2 linked regions of the Homo sapiens genome follow. The protein of the gene in region 2 interacts with the protein of the main gene of each other region in a biochemical or structural test. Each region holds a gene or a part of one and is shown on either strand. Other genes may lie near its edges.

The links. The genes of interacting proteins can lie anywhere in the genome.
Region 1: the proteins of FGF7 (region 2) and HSPG2 form a complex in vitro, tested with the Homo sapiens proteins (one study listed by BioGRID).

The regions. Positions count from the first base shown.
Region 1 is NC_000001.11:21,822,311-21,829,310, reverse strand, and holds part of HSPG2 (basement membrane-specific heparan sulfate proteoglycan core protein isoform b precursor), read left to right. Parts: intron 1-231; coding exon 232-476; intron 477-884; coding exon 885-1,056; intron 1,057-1,158; coding exon 1,159-1,281; intron 1,282-1,391; coding exon 1,392-1,448; intron 1,449-4,085; exon of another isoform or gene 4,086-4,531; coding exon 4,532-4,607; exon of another isoform or gene 4,608-4,695; coding exon 4,696-4,774; exon of another isoform or gene 4,775-4,934; coding exon 4,935-5,005; exon of another isoform or gene 5,006-5,106; coding exon 5,107-5,190; exon of another isoform or gene 5,191-5,591; coding exon 5,592-5,695; exon of another isoform or gene 5,696-5,822; coding exon 5,823-5,995; 3' UTR 5,996-7,000. UniProt on the Homo sapiens protein: Integral component of basement membranes. Component of the glomerular basement membrane (GBM), responsible for the fixed negative electrostatic membrane charge, and which provides a barrier which is both size- and charge-selective.
Region 2 is NC_000015.10:49,418,379-49,426,241, forward strand, and holds the start of FGF7 (fibroblast growth factor 7 precursor), read left to right. Parts: upstream 1-4,863; 5' UTR 4,864-5,062; intron 5,063-5,653; 5' UTR 5,654-5,919; coding exon 5,920-6,205; intron 6,206-7,863. UniProt on the Homo sapiens protein: Plays an important role in the regulation of embryonic development, cell proliferation and cell differentiation. Required for normal branching morphogenesis. Growth factor active on keratinocytes.

The DNA of each region.
Region 1 (7,000 bases), on a different chromosome or scaffold from region 2:
GGAGGCATGGGAGGATAAATGCAGGGATCAGGGCAAGTCCCCTCTTCCTGTGCATTTCGTCTCTGTGTCACTTGAGGCCAATCCCTAGCCCTCTCTGAGCCATGGGCTCCTCATCTGGAATACAGAAGGCTGTAGGGCATTCCCCATCTGCTCAGGGCCCTGTTTGTGGTGGAGAGGGCAGGGAGCCCCGTGTGCCCCCATGTGCCCAACCCTGCCTGGCATCCTCCCCAGGGCTGGCCGTTCTGCGGAGCGCCGAGCCGCTGGCCCTGGGCCGCTGGCACCGTGTGTCTGCAGAGCGTCTCAACAAGGACGGCAGCCTGCGGGTGAATGGTGGACGCCCTGTGCTGCGCTCCTCGCCCGGCAAGAGCCAGGGCCTCAACCTGCACACCCTGCTCTACCTGGGGGGTGTGGAGCCTTCCGTGCCACTGTCCCCGGCCACCAACATGAGCGCTCACTTCCGCGGCTGTGTGGGCGAGGTAAGAGCAGCCTCCTCGGGACAAGCGGGAGGGGAGGGGTGCCAAGCCTTGTGTCCCCCTCGGCTCTCCAAGCACCTTGGCATTGGGCCCCTCCACCTGCAGCCACCCACGGGCCCTGGGCCAGGACACTGTACCTCTGAGCCTCAGTTTCCTCCTCTGTAAAATGGGCATGATCACACCTACTTTGAAAGGTTGGGCAGAGGATTGTCTGCACTGACGGATGAATGTTTCTAGCACACAGTAGGCACTCAACTCCTGCGCCTCCCTCCCCACACCGAGAATCCATGCTACCACTCAGGGCCCAATGTGGGCTCCCAGCTCCCCTCTGCTGCATTCTTCTCCCTGCTGGTACACCTGGGTCTCTGCCTCCCAGGCCCCTTTAGTCCCTCGGTGTCCCTGTCCCCACAGGTGTCAGTGAATGGCAAACGGCTGGACCTCACCTACAGTTTCCTAGGCAGCCAGGGCATCGGGCAATGCTATGATAGCTCCCCATGTGAGCGCCAGCCTTGCCAACATGGTGCCACGTGCATGCCCGCTGGCGAGTATGAGTTCCAGTGCCTGTGTCGAGATGGATTCAAAGGTGGGAAAGCCTGCCCAGGGCACCGGAGGGGAGGGGCACAGGTGGTCAGCGACACCTCCAGCCCATGCCCACCCACCCACTCGCCTCTGCCCTGGCCCACAGGAGACCTGTGTGAGCACGAGGAGAACCCCTGCCAGCTCCGTGAACCCTGTCTGCATGGGGGCACCTGCCAGGGCACCCGCTGCCTCTGCCTCCCTGGCTTCTCTGGCCCACGCTGCCAACAAGGTACCCAGGCCTGGCTTCTCTCCACTTCATCTCTGTCTTGGGGCCCCGGAGCTCGACATAGTACCCACGGGTGTCTATGCCCACCAACTGGACCCTGCCCTTCTCCATAGGCTCTGGACATGGCATAGCAGAGTCCGACTGGCATCTTGAAGGCAGCGGGGGCAATGGTGAGTACTTGCCATGGCCTCCTCCCCAGCTTCAGCTCAGCTCACTCTTCCAGTTACCCCACACCCTCAATTCTGGCCTGCAAGCAAAACAGCTTTATATGAGGAGCTTGCTGGGCAGAGAGACAGAATGAAGACCACAGCCATGTGGAGCTAGGGCCTGCCCCACACTTACTGGCTGGGTGACCTTGGGCAGGCCTTTGAAACCACTCTGACCTCAGTTTCCTCCTCTGTATTCATGTATTCAGTCAACAAACTATTGTTGCCCATCCTTGCCCTGAGAGCAGTAAATATAAGATGCATAAAGCAAGACCCTCATTCCCAAGAATTCCACCGTCTACTGAAAAGCTAAGGAAACAGTGAAGAGTGAATGCTGATTGAATGTTTACGGACACTGTGCTAACCCCTTTACAGACACATCTCTTCTTATGTATCACTAATATAATAGGCGAGGCAGTGGTATAGTGGGTAAGAGTATAGACTTGGAGCCAGCCTGCTTGGGTTCAAATCCTAGCTCTCCCACTTACTAGCTGTGGAACTTTGGGTGAGTCGCTTAACCTCTCTGTGCCTCATATAAAATGGAGATGAGTAACATCTTTCCCTAAAGATTTGGATAAAATTTTATGTGAGAGTAAAATTACTTAGTGCATTTTTTTTTAAGGTGGAGTCTTGCTCTTTCACCCAGGCTGGAGTGCAGTGGCACAATCTCGGCTCACTGCAACCCCCGCCTCCCAGACTCAAGCGATTCTGCTGCCTCAGCTTCCTGAGTAGCTGGGATTACAGGTGCCTGCCACCACACCCCGCTAATTTTTGTATTTTTTGTAGGGATGGGGTTTCACCATGTTGGCCAGGCCTGTCTCTAACTCCTGACCTCAGGTGATCCGCCCCCCTTGGCTTCCTAAAGTGCTGGATTACAGGCGTAAGCCACCGTCCTAAAGTGCTGGATTACAGGCATAAGCCACCGCGCCCGGCCACTTAGTGCATTTTAAATGCCTAGAACAATGTGTGGTACAGAGTCAGTACAGAATGTTAGCTGTTGTTAATATTATGTTCAGCTGGCCGGGCACACTGGCTCACGCCTGTAATCCCAGCACTTTAGGAAGCTGAAGCGGGCAGATCACCTGAGGTTGGGAATTTGAGACCAGCCTGACCAACATGGAGAAACCCCATCTCTACTAAAAATACAAAATTAGCTGGGCGTGGTGGCACATGCCTATAATCCCAGCTACTCCGGAGGCTGAGGCAGGAGAATCGCTTGAACCTGGGAGGTGGAGGTTGCCATGAGCCAAGATTGCATGCACCATTGCACTCCAGCCTGGGCAACAAGAGCGAAACTCCCTCTCAAAAAAAAATACTATATTCAGCTGGGTATGGTGACTCACGCCTATAATCCCAGCACTTTGGGAGGCTGTGGCGGGCAGATTGCTTGAGCCCAGGAGTTCCAGACCAGCCTGGGCAACAAGGCGAAATCCTGTCTCTACAAAAAAATACAAAAAGTAGCTGGGCATGGTGGTGCTCATCTATGGTCCCAGCTACTCAGGAGACAGGCAGGAGGATTGCTTGAGCCCAGGAGTTCAAGATCAACCTGGGCAACACAGGGAGACCTCATCTCTACAAGAAATTTAAGAATTAGCTGGGTGTGGTGGCACATGGCTATGGTCCCAGCTGAGGCAGAAGGATCACTTGAGCCCAGGAGGTCGAGGCTGTAGTGAGCTACAATTGTGTCACTGCACTCTAGCCTGGGCAACAGACTGAGACCCTGTCTCAAAAAAATAAAAAATAAGGCTGGGTGCGGTGGCTCACACCTGTCATCCCAGCACTTTGGGAGGACAAGGTGGGTGGATCACCTGAGATCAGTTCGAGACCAGCCTGGCCAACATGGCGAAACCCCATCTCTACTAAAAATACAAAAATTAGCCAGGTGTGGTGGTGCACACCTGTAGTCCCAGCTACTCGGGAGGCCAAGGCAGGAGAATTGCTTGAACCTGGGAGGTGGGGGTTGTAGTGAACCAAGATTGTGCCACTGCACTCCAGCCTGGGCCACGGAGCGAGACTCCATCTCAAAAATAAATAAATAAAATAAAAATTATCTATATATAATATTCATTCATAGGGTTGTTGTAAGGATTGAGTTAAATGCAGTGGTGTCTGTAGCTGGATGGGACGCTCCCCGCACAGCCACATCATAGGTGTTAGGTAAATGTCAGCCGTTCTCCTCATCATTTGGTGGAGGGTAGCAGAGGGTCCCCTACTCTTGTCCCCTGCCAGAGCTACTGTGGCCAGTGCCGGCCTGTGGGATGGGTCATGAGCAGATAGGGCTGGGGGGGTGTGGAGCCACACACAGTATGGACATCCTGGGCCAGTCACTCGCCCAAGCCTGCCTGCTCTTCTGTAAGATGGAGAGAACACCAAGGCTCTGAACCATTTATTGCCACAGTCCAAGGTGACCAACGGTCCCAGTAGCTCCGGACTGAGGGGTTTCTTGGGATGTGGGACTTTCAGGGCTAAAGCCAGACAGAATTTGGCAAGTAGAATGGCGGGTCACCCGACACGGATCCTGTTGACTACACAAAATAAAATAAAATAAAATACATTGATTTAAGGAAAGCAATTATGCTGAAGTAAAGTAATCAAAACATGTTTTAAGTTTCCTGACTTGCTATATATGTGCTTCTTTATTAACACATCAAATAACAAGATCTGGTGATCTCAGTAGCTACCACAATTTCAAAGCAGCAATATGTGTAAATGATATTTTGAAATATTTGCAGCTACTGTCATGTGATAAGCAAATACTAGTAACAAAGTTGCAGGTCCTACCACTGCTACTTTGGTTTCTTGCCTACATCTCATTGAAAGAACTGCTCAATTTCAGTGAGAAGTGAGTGAAATTGAGGTGTAATGCTTTCCCATCCAAGGTCATAGGCTCCCTGAATTCTGTTGGCAGCCCCCGTGGGTCCCCAGGGACTGCAGGCTCGGAGCCCCCTAGTCCTGCATGTTGGCGTGGAGGTGGGGGTCAGGGGAACTGACGGGGGATTTTGATGCCTGATGCAGCAGGTATGGCACCACCCTCCTCTCTCCCACAGATGCCCCTGGGCAGTACGGAGCCTATTTCCACGATGATGGCTTCCTCGCCTTCCCTGGCCATGTCTTCTCCAGGAGGTGAGACTGGCATTGGAAGGGCCCATGGGCCTAATGGGGAGGATGGGAATCTGGGACTTCTGTCCCCTCACCCGCTCTTCCTCCGCAGCCTGCCCGAGGTGCCCGAGACCATCGAGCTGGAGGTTCGGACCAGCACAGCCAGTGGCCTCCTGCTCTGGCAGGGTGTGGTGAGTGTGGGTATCCGGCTGGGCTCTTGGGGCTCCTGGGGCAGGAAGCTGGCTTCCTGGTGGCCGGAGTGGTGGGGGGAGGGGAAAGCAGAGCCCCCTGGCCTCGGCAGCCTCTGCTCTCCAGGCTGGGGACCCCAGAGACCCTGTGCTTCCCTGGCAGGAGGTGGGAGAGGCCGGCCAAGGCAAGGACTTCATCAGCCTCGGGCTTCAAGACGGGCACCTTGTCTTCAGGTAGGTCCTGGCACCTGGCCCTTCCTCTCCCTTCCCTGGTCCCAGCACCCCACCCCCCGGTCCTGCCCCAGCTCATACTTCTTGGGCCTGGATGACTGCAGGTACCAGCTGGGTAGTGGGGAGGCCCGCCTGGTCTCTGAGGACCCCATCAATGACGGCGAGTGGCACCGGGTGACAGCACTGCGGTAAGGGACCCTGCCGGGCACTCGGGATGGGGCCCAGCGTTCTGGAGTGGGGCAGGACGCCCCCTACCATGGGCAGAGAGGCAGGTATTGAGCTCTGTGGAGACAGAACTTGAAGCCAGGGGAGGGGAGAACCCACCAGCCAGGGCTCGGGCTTCCATCTCGGACTGAACTCCGCTGGGGGCAGGCGAGTGCCCCAGGAGTGGGAGGAAACCTGGGTGCAGAAATGAGGAAGCTGTGTTTGTGGGGCCCGATCTCTCGTTCAGCGGGGGAAAGAAAGAGCTTGGGAAACAGGGACAGACTTCTGAGTCTGGAGTCTCGATATCAGAGGGAGGGGACTCTGTCGTGGGGCCGGGGAGGACCAGGAAGTTTGTGGAAAGGGGCCTGACCCAGTTCCACTGCAGGGAGGGCCGCAGAGGTTCCATCCAAGTCGACGGTGAGGAGCTGGTCAGCGGCCGGTCCCCAGGTCCCAACGTGGCAGTCAACGCCAAGGGCAGCGTCTACATCGGTAAGTCTGGGGCTCCTTCTCAGGGCAGGGGCAGGAACGGCACTCCCTTAGGGCTAGAGCTCGCCCAGCCTTCCTCGCCTCCTGGGCTGCTGGAGCCCACAGGCCCTGTCCTCTCACCTCCCGGCAGGCGGAGCCCCTGACGTGGCCACGCTGACCGGGGGCAGATTCTCCTCAGGCATCACAGGCTGTGTCAAGAACCTGGTGCTGCACTCGGCCCGACCCGGCGCCCCGCCCCCACAGCCCCTGGACCTGCAGCACCGCGCCCAGGCCGGGGCCAACACACGCCCCTGCCCCTCGTAGGCACCTGCCTGCCCCACACGGACTCCCGGGCCACGCCCCAGCCCGACAATGTCGAGTATATTATTATTAATATTATTATGAATTTTTGTAAGAAACCGAGGCGATGCCACGCTTTGCTGCTACCGCCCTGGGCTGGACTGGAGGTGGGCATGCCACCCTCACACACACAGCTGGGCAAAGCCACAAGGCTGGCCAGCAAGGCAGGTTGGATGGGAGTGGGCACCTCAGAAAGTCACCAGGACTTGGGGTCAGGAACAGTGGCTGGGTGGGCCCAGAACTGCCCCCACTGTCCCCCTACCCACCGATGGAGCCCCCAGATAGAGCTGGGTGGCCTGTTTCTGCAGCCCTTGGGCAGTTCTCACTCCTAGGAGAGCCAACCTCGGCTTGTGGGCTGGTGCCCCACAGCTACCTGAGACGGGCATCGCAGGAGTCTCTGCCACCCACTCAGGATTGGGAATTGTCTTTAGTGCCGGCTGTGGAGCAAAAGGCAGCTCACCCCTGGGCAGGCGGTCCCCATCCCCACCAGCTCGTTTTTCAGCACCCCCACCCACCTCCACCCAGCCCCTGGCACCTCCTCTGGCAGACTCCCCCTCCTACCACGTCCTCCTGGCCTGCATTCCCACCCCCTCCTGCCAGCACACAGCCTGGGGTCCCTCCCTCAGGGGCTGTAAGGGAAGGCCCACCCCAACTCTTACCAGGAGCTGCTACAGGCAGAGCCCAGCACTGATAGGGCCCCGCCCACCGGGCCCCGCCCACCCCAGGCCACATCCCCACCCATCTGGAAGTGAAGGCCCAGGGACTCCTCCAACAGACAACGGACGGACGGATGCCGCTGGTGCTCAGGAAGAGCTAGTGCCTTAGGTGGGGGAAGGCAGGACTCACGACTGAGAGAGAGAGGAGGGGGATATGACCACCCTGCCCCATCTGCAGGAGCCTGAAGATCCAGCTCAAGTGCCATCCTGCCAGTGGCCCCCAGACTGTGGGGTTGGGACGCCTGGCCTCTGT
Region 2 (7,863 bases):
CTATTCACAATAGCAAAGATATGGAATCAATCTAAATGCCCTCAATGGTAGACTGGATAAAGAAAATGTGGTACATATAGACTATGGAATACTTTGCAGCCATCATGTCCTTTGCAGGAACGTGGATGGAGCTGGAGGCCATTATCCTTAGCAAACTAACACAGGAACAGCAAATCAAATATCATATTCTCCCACTTATAAATAGAGCTAAGTAGTGAGAACAAATGGACACAAACAGAGAACAACAGATACTGGGGTCCACTTGAGGGTGGAGGGAGGGAAGAGAAAATATAACTATCAGGTACTATGCTTAGTGCTTCGGTGATAATCTGTACACTGAACCCTTGTGACATGAGTTTACCTGTATAACAAATCTGCACATGTACCCCTGAACCTAAAAGATCAAAAAAAGAAAAAAAAAGAAATATGTGTTGGACCACAATTTCAGATATGCAAAGAATAACATATAAATTTATATTTATAAATATAAATCAACCTAGCTTTAATTTTGAGAATTCTGCTCTTCCAGTTTGGTAAAAAACTTAACTTCAGTTATTCTAGGGTTTCCCTCTTCTGTTTCAAGATGGGATAGATTTCAAGAGTTTTATGTATGGCCAAAGCTAAGGCATCTGGGTGTTGAGTCATTCGTCTACCCTGATTCCTCTTCTGGGGTATTCATTCACTCTGTTCACACAGTTTCTACAGTTCTGAACTCCCTCCTACTTCCAGAATTATTTTAAAATATGGGAATGTTTATGAGGGGTCCTTATGGACCTATTTGTTCAGACACATGAGGCAGCCCTGATTCTCTGGAGTATTGCTGCCTCTGCTATGTGCGGTGGTGCTGTGTACAGATAAATATACAAGCATGGCTCCCCAAATATGGGGGCCATAAATTTTCTCTATGCTCCCAGGTCCATGGGACTCTGTGATAGCTTCCCTGGGCTGCTTCTCAAATGCACTCTAGTGCTTCCTTTATTTTCAGTGCGCTTGGCATGACCTTTTGAAAGGGATTCATGTTTTACCCTAGTCAGGAAGCATTTATGACTTTTTTCCCTCAACCTTTCCTTTCCAATATCTTTTTGAAAATATGAAGAACAGAAAAAAATGGGATAAATGAACACAGTTTAATATTTCATAAGCCCATTCTGCCAATAGGAATTAAGTTTTGACCAGAACAGAGGCAGAGTAAAATTCTGATCATGTCACTCTTCTGCTTACCATATTATAATGGCTTCCTATTGCTCCTGGAATACAGATCATATGCCTTAATAAAACACATGGAGATCCTGCCTGCCTCTCCAACCTCTTCATGCACCACAGTCCCTTCTCATTCTCTCTACTGGGACCAAACCTGTGTTTCACTGTGAAAAGGACAGGTTTTTTTATTATTATTATTTTTTTATTTTTTATTTTTGTATAGTACCTCTTCACCTGGTTAACTCCCATTCATGCTGTAAAGTTGCAGCTTTAGTGGAATTCTTGCAGGGAAAGCTTACATATTGCCACTTATTATAGATACTCATGGCACTATGTATCTTTTCTTTGTAGCACTTGTCCATGATGGTTACCTTCTCTCATAAGAAGAGAAATGCAAAGGATAACTACAATTTAATGGCATTTTCACTTGTCAGACTAATAAAACTCCAAATGTTTTCACAATAAATTTTTTGAAATAAATGAGTACTCTTACCTACTGCTGGTGGGATTATAAAACTAGCACAACCTCTGTGGAGGATAAGTTGGCAATATCTTTTTTTTAATACCTTTTGTCCCAGGCAGTCTACTTCTGGAAATTGATCCTATAGATTTATTTTCGTAGTATAAAATGACATATTTTGTCTTTATTCATTACAGCATTTCTTTGGTAATAGAAAAGTACTGAAGAAAATTAAATGTTCCTCAATAGGAGGCTGCTCAAATACACTGTGATATACCCATTCGGTGGAATACCCTGTAGCTATAACAAAAACAAAAATGTGAGAAGCTTCCTAAATAATGAGATAGGAAGATTTTTCTGTTAAAAAAAAATACAAAAAAATGCATATGACGTGCTACCTTTTGTATAAAAAGGGTAAAAGTAAAAAATAATATGTATGTGTATATACATATACACACAAACATATGTATCCAGTTTGCCTGTACAAGCATAGCGAAACTCTGAAAAGATACACAAGAAACTAATAAAAAGAATTATCTATGTTTTGGGGAAGAATGAAAACTGACAGGATATGGAACAGAATAAGATGTAAGAATGAAAAGTAATGAAAATATTTAATTATGTTCCCTTCTACTGATTATATTATACATGATTATGAACGAGGCAAAGTTTTGTTTTTCTTTTTCAGATGGAGTCTCGCTTTGTCACCTAGGCTGGAGTGCAGTTGTGCGATCTCTGCTCACTGCAAGCTCTGCTTCCCAGGTTCACACCATTTTCCTGCCTCAGCCTCCCGAGTAGCTGGGACTACAGGCGCCCGCTACCATGCCCGGCTAATTTTTTTGTATTTTTAGTAGAGACGGGGTTTCACTGTGTTAGCCAGGATGGTCTCGATCTCCTGACTTTGTGATCCATCCGCCTCGGCCTCCCAAAGTGCTGGGATTACAGGCGTGAGCCACCATGCTGGGCCAGTTAATTCTTTGAAGCCAGCAATGGTGTGTTAAAAAAGAAAATTCAATCTACAAATAACAAAAAAAAGACAATAGTTCAAAGTATTCCTGTGCTTAATCTATCACTATAGGTCTATTAAAACAAGAGCAACAAACGGTTGCCAATGTATAACTTAAAACATCCAGAGGGTTACCCCATCTACAGTTGCCTAAAGTTATTCTTAGTTCCTGGAGAATTCATTTAGAAGCATAAGCATAATAAGGGCACAGTGAAATCTAAGTTTGGTTCTCCATTATAGCTGTGGTCCTAATGAATTGTGGGCCCATCCTGAATTAATAATTCTCCAATAAAAATGATAATCAAAGAATTTAAACCATTGATACAGTTCCCTTGTTGATATTAATCTGTTCATTAATATTACTTGGATCATATTTCCAAATTACAGAGTGTAATAGCATCTAATGCACTTTCATAGATCACAATTTTATTCTTTTGTTTCCCATTTTACAGTTAATCCTATGTAGCAGATATTAAGGAGGCACTAAGCACTCTTTGCTAACAAACTATCCATTTCTTTCATTTAAGTATTTAGCACTTAGTTAGCAAATGTGGACTTCTCACTTACTGATTTCTTGGTTTAAAAACTGTAGGTTCAGTATGGAACAAATGGATTTAGTAGCTCTTGAATATCTTTACACTGTAAACTTACTATTGATAACTTTTATTTCTTTAGAAGCAATATCTAAGTCCTAGGAATTCTGAGCCTGCTCATTATTGTTACCTCCCAAACTAGCGGAGTGTGATTCAGAACACAATAACATTATATTTTCTTTCCTCCTTCTCTTCCTCCTTTTAGAGAATACATGATAGGATGTTTTCAGCTTTCTAGCTTTCAACAGATGCAATGATCAAAGAGTCTGTCCCCCTCTGCTTTAATAAATGTGGAACATTCAACATTTGGCATATGAAGAGTAACTGGGTACATCTGAACTATTCTGTGCTCTTCATTCTGTTCCCTAAAGGGACAGATACAAAGAGAAATCACATAAACTATAATCCAGTTGAGTAGATTTAATTTCCTTTTCCTATTTGGTCTACATGCACCACCTGGTGGTAAAGTAGTGCATTTCACATAGAGAGAGAGAGAGAGAGAGAGAGAGTGTGTGTGTGTGTGTGTGCGCGCGCGCGCGCGTGCACGCGTGTGTGTTTTGAGGAGTATATAACATGAAAAAGATAATTTTAATATACTTTCTTAATACTGATTTAGATAGACAACACAATTATTCTACACCAAGAATCTAATACAACACTTGAGCACTACTTCATGTATAACAGAACAGGAAGTAAAGGAGAGAACTCATGCTGGAAAGTAAAATAGCTTTCACTTATTTACCTTAGCAATACATATTATAATTCCATCTCTAAATTAACATTTATTGTTCCAATATTCTTATTGAGGCAAAAATCAAACACTGATAATCAATGTGAAACCATTTCCTCCTTTTTAAAGAATAACAGCTTTTAAAAGTAGGTGCCCTGTTCCTTATATTAGTAGTGAGTATAAGTCACAGATCACAGAATTGTAAAGCACCATAGAGGCATTAGACCAATACACCAATTTTACAAATGTAGCAGCTGAGACTCTGGAACAGCAGGTAACTTGCCCGAAGTCATACTGGTCATTAGTGGTCCAACACAAATAAGAATCTAGATCTTCTCACTTTCAGCCTAGGAATATAATACATAAAAATTGTACTTATATTCATATTCAATGAATTGTCTCTGTATGATGTGATAATATTCAACTTATCTACACAGTGCTTTAAGGCACTCATATGTTAGTTAACACATACCAGTTTTGTTCTAACATTCTGAGCACAAAGAAGTAATTGAAGAAATGCATGTATCATAAAGCTATGGAAAAGATTTTCTAAGTATTAAAAAACCCTATATATATGTTCAAATGAATAATTTTCCAAGTATAATACAACTGCTATATTGCAAAGAAGGTTTAAAAAATTCCCTTTCCCCTTCTAACTGCTTCAGAACCAGAGATCTGTTTCTACAAAGTAGGTACCCACTTGTAGATTTAAGCATAAAACATGTTCATAGCTCCCTCTCATGACCATTGAATACTATACAAGCCTCCTTTTATTCTCGCTGTTGTATTCAACTAACAGCTCACTGGCTAAGTTTTAATTGCTTCCAATGAGGTCAGCAAAGGTATTTATCGAAAAGCCCTGAATAAAAGGCTCACACACACACACAAGCACACACGCGCTCACACACAGAGAGAAAATCCTTCTGCCTGTTGATTTATGGAAACAATTATGATTCTGCTGGAGAACTTTTCAGCTGAGAAATAGTTTGTAGCTACAGTAGAAAGGCTCAAGTTGCACCAGGCAGACAACAGACATGGAATTCTTATATATCCAGCTGTTAGCAACAAAACAAGTAAGTTACTGTTATTTGTCTTTTAAAACAATGCTGAATGTTTTCTAAAAGTTTATCTCTTTTTCTGATTTTAGTACTGAGCAGGAAAGTAAAGTTACAAGATTTTTGAGCCATGTAACTATAGTAATTATGCTGTAGAACATAAAGATAAGGTTGAAGTTCTCCAGAGCAATCCTGACATTTAACTTAAAAAACCTGGGCAGTTCAGGAGAAAATAATTGATTAACCACAAATGTAAAAGCATATAATAAAGAAGTCTAGGGAGAAAGCAGTTACACTTTGTTAGCAGTAATTGTAAAAACTTAATTTAAATCAATAGTTCTGAGTGCAGTATGGTTCTCACAAAATAGCAATTGGAATGAATGGTACAGTCATATTCTGTTTTGTCTCTACTCATGCATAAATTTTATAAATCTACACATAAAGTGGTAAAGATTTTGACATCCTCTGTGAAGGCTGTTTTAAATGTATCTTCAAAGAATAACCTATACTGTATTCTAATGCTACTACTTACCCACTAAAATTTACACATACAATTTTTTATCTTCCTCTCTCCTCCCCTCCCTATTCTTAATCTCTCATTGCAAACAGAAGTCAAATAGCAAACAGCGTCACAGCAACTGAACTTACTACGAACTGTTTTTATGAGGATTTATCAACAGAGTTATTTAAGGAGGAATCCTGTGTTGTTATCAGGAACTAAAAGGATAAGGCTAACAATTTGGAAAGAGCAACTACTCTTTCTTAAATCAATCTACAATTCACAGATAGGAAGAGGTCAATGACCTAGGAGTAACAATCAACTCAAGATTCATTTTCATTATGTTATTCATGAACACCCGGAGCACTACACTATAATGCACAAATGGATACTGACATGGATCCTGCCAACTTTGCTCTACAGATCATGCTTTCACATTATCTGTCTAGTGGGTACTATATCTTTAGCTTGCAATGACATGACTCCAGAGCAAATGGCTACAAATGTGAACTGTTCCAGCCCTGAGCGACACACAAGAAGTTATGATTACATGGAAGGAGGGGATATAAGAGTGAGAAGACTCTTCTGTCGAACACAGTGGTACCTGAGGATCGATAAAAGAGGCAAAGTAAAAGGGACCCAAGAGATGAAGAATAATTACAGTAAGTAATTTTAAGTACTGCTCATGAACCTTAGCAATCTGTTAATGGATCAATTTTCAGGTGATATGTTTTCTCATCTTCCTTTTGCTTCTTGGAAAAAAAATTAAATAAAATGTCACCTAATTTCTCTAAATTGAACTATGTTGAACTATGCCCCTAAAAATATCTCTTTTAACAGGGCAAATCTACTTACATTATAGTTGGACCTGATAATCCAAGCCAATTTGAAAATATATACTCCTTGTCCTGAAAATGCTCATAAGTTAAGCAAAATGTAAATAATATTATTCACACCAAAATGTGACTTAATATTGTCTAAGCAAAACTCATTAAGATATCTAATTTAGAACTTCATAAATTATCACTAAAAGCTATTTATCACTAGTTTAAAGAGTAGGGAAATTATTTTTATTAATTTGATTTTCTTTGAAATAATATTTTCATGATGTAAATTAAAATACTTAATCTGTGCTAAGATATGCATTCCTTTGCAATTGTGTATAATGATAAAATAGAAGGGAATCTGTGGTATCCTTATTCATTTGAGTCATAATGAGCTTGTATTAAGTTGATGACTTATCAACTTAGGCAGAAAAACAGATCTCTCCTAACGTTTTCCTTAACTAAATCTTTTATGTCATAAAAGTTCTGTGCTATCTTAAGAAAAATGTAAAGGTGAGGGGAAAAAAGTGGGCTGGAAGAGATGGTAATTCCATGTTTTTCAATTTAAAGCCTTACATTTTTCCCAAGAATCAGTTATTCTTCTTATGTTAAAATATCAGGGTTGTGTTTTGCATTTAATGGTTATGATGAATAACCAACTTCAATAGTATTAAATGTAATGGAATAAGATACACACCTCAACATGTACATTAAGGATTTAAAATACTTAGTAAAAATAAATTTTGTTTACATTACTAGCACTCAGAAAACATTGTTATTAATATATAATTTCATATTAATTGTTTTAAAGTCATTTGAAAAAGAATGCATGGGGAGACTGGTGTAAACATGTGCAAATCACAGTGCCAGGCTTGCAGCAATTACTCAAACTTTTGTTGCCTGTTTACTGAATGACTTTTAGGGTTCTGAACTAATCAACCAATCAATGGGAATTTCAGAGAATTATGTTTCCAATATGAAAATGAGAAGACCTTCTTTTTAACCATAATTGATATAGAATGTTAAGGCCATTTTAATGACTGGACAGTTATGGTTTTATTATTATTATTTATTATTATTACTGAGATTAATAAAGGTATCATGTTAGTTCTAGAAGATCATTCTTATTATACTAAAGTTTATCTAAGGAAATGACTATTTGGAGAAAATTTTTTTGATATCTACTTCTATATAAGCAACAGAATTTGGCTTATAATTAATTTATTTAAAAGTTGCTCAGATTTATCATGGATAATATCATGGATATAATAACAATATTATATATTATCATGGATAATATATATCAATAATAATATCATGGATAATAAAACCTGGTGGAGACGACAGAGCCTAGGTAAAAATTATGACACATGGGGCAACTCCCTGTCTACGAATGATCTGGGGACAATTTCTTTGTTTTTCTGACCCTCAATTTTTCATCTATAAAATGTGGGATAGGTACAGATGATTTCCATGATACTTTCCAGTTCTTATAG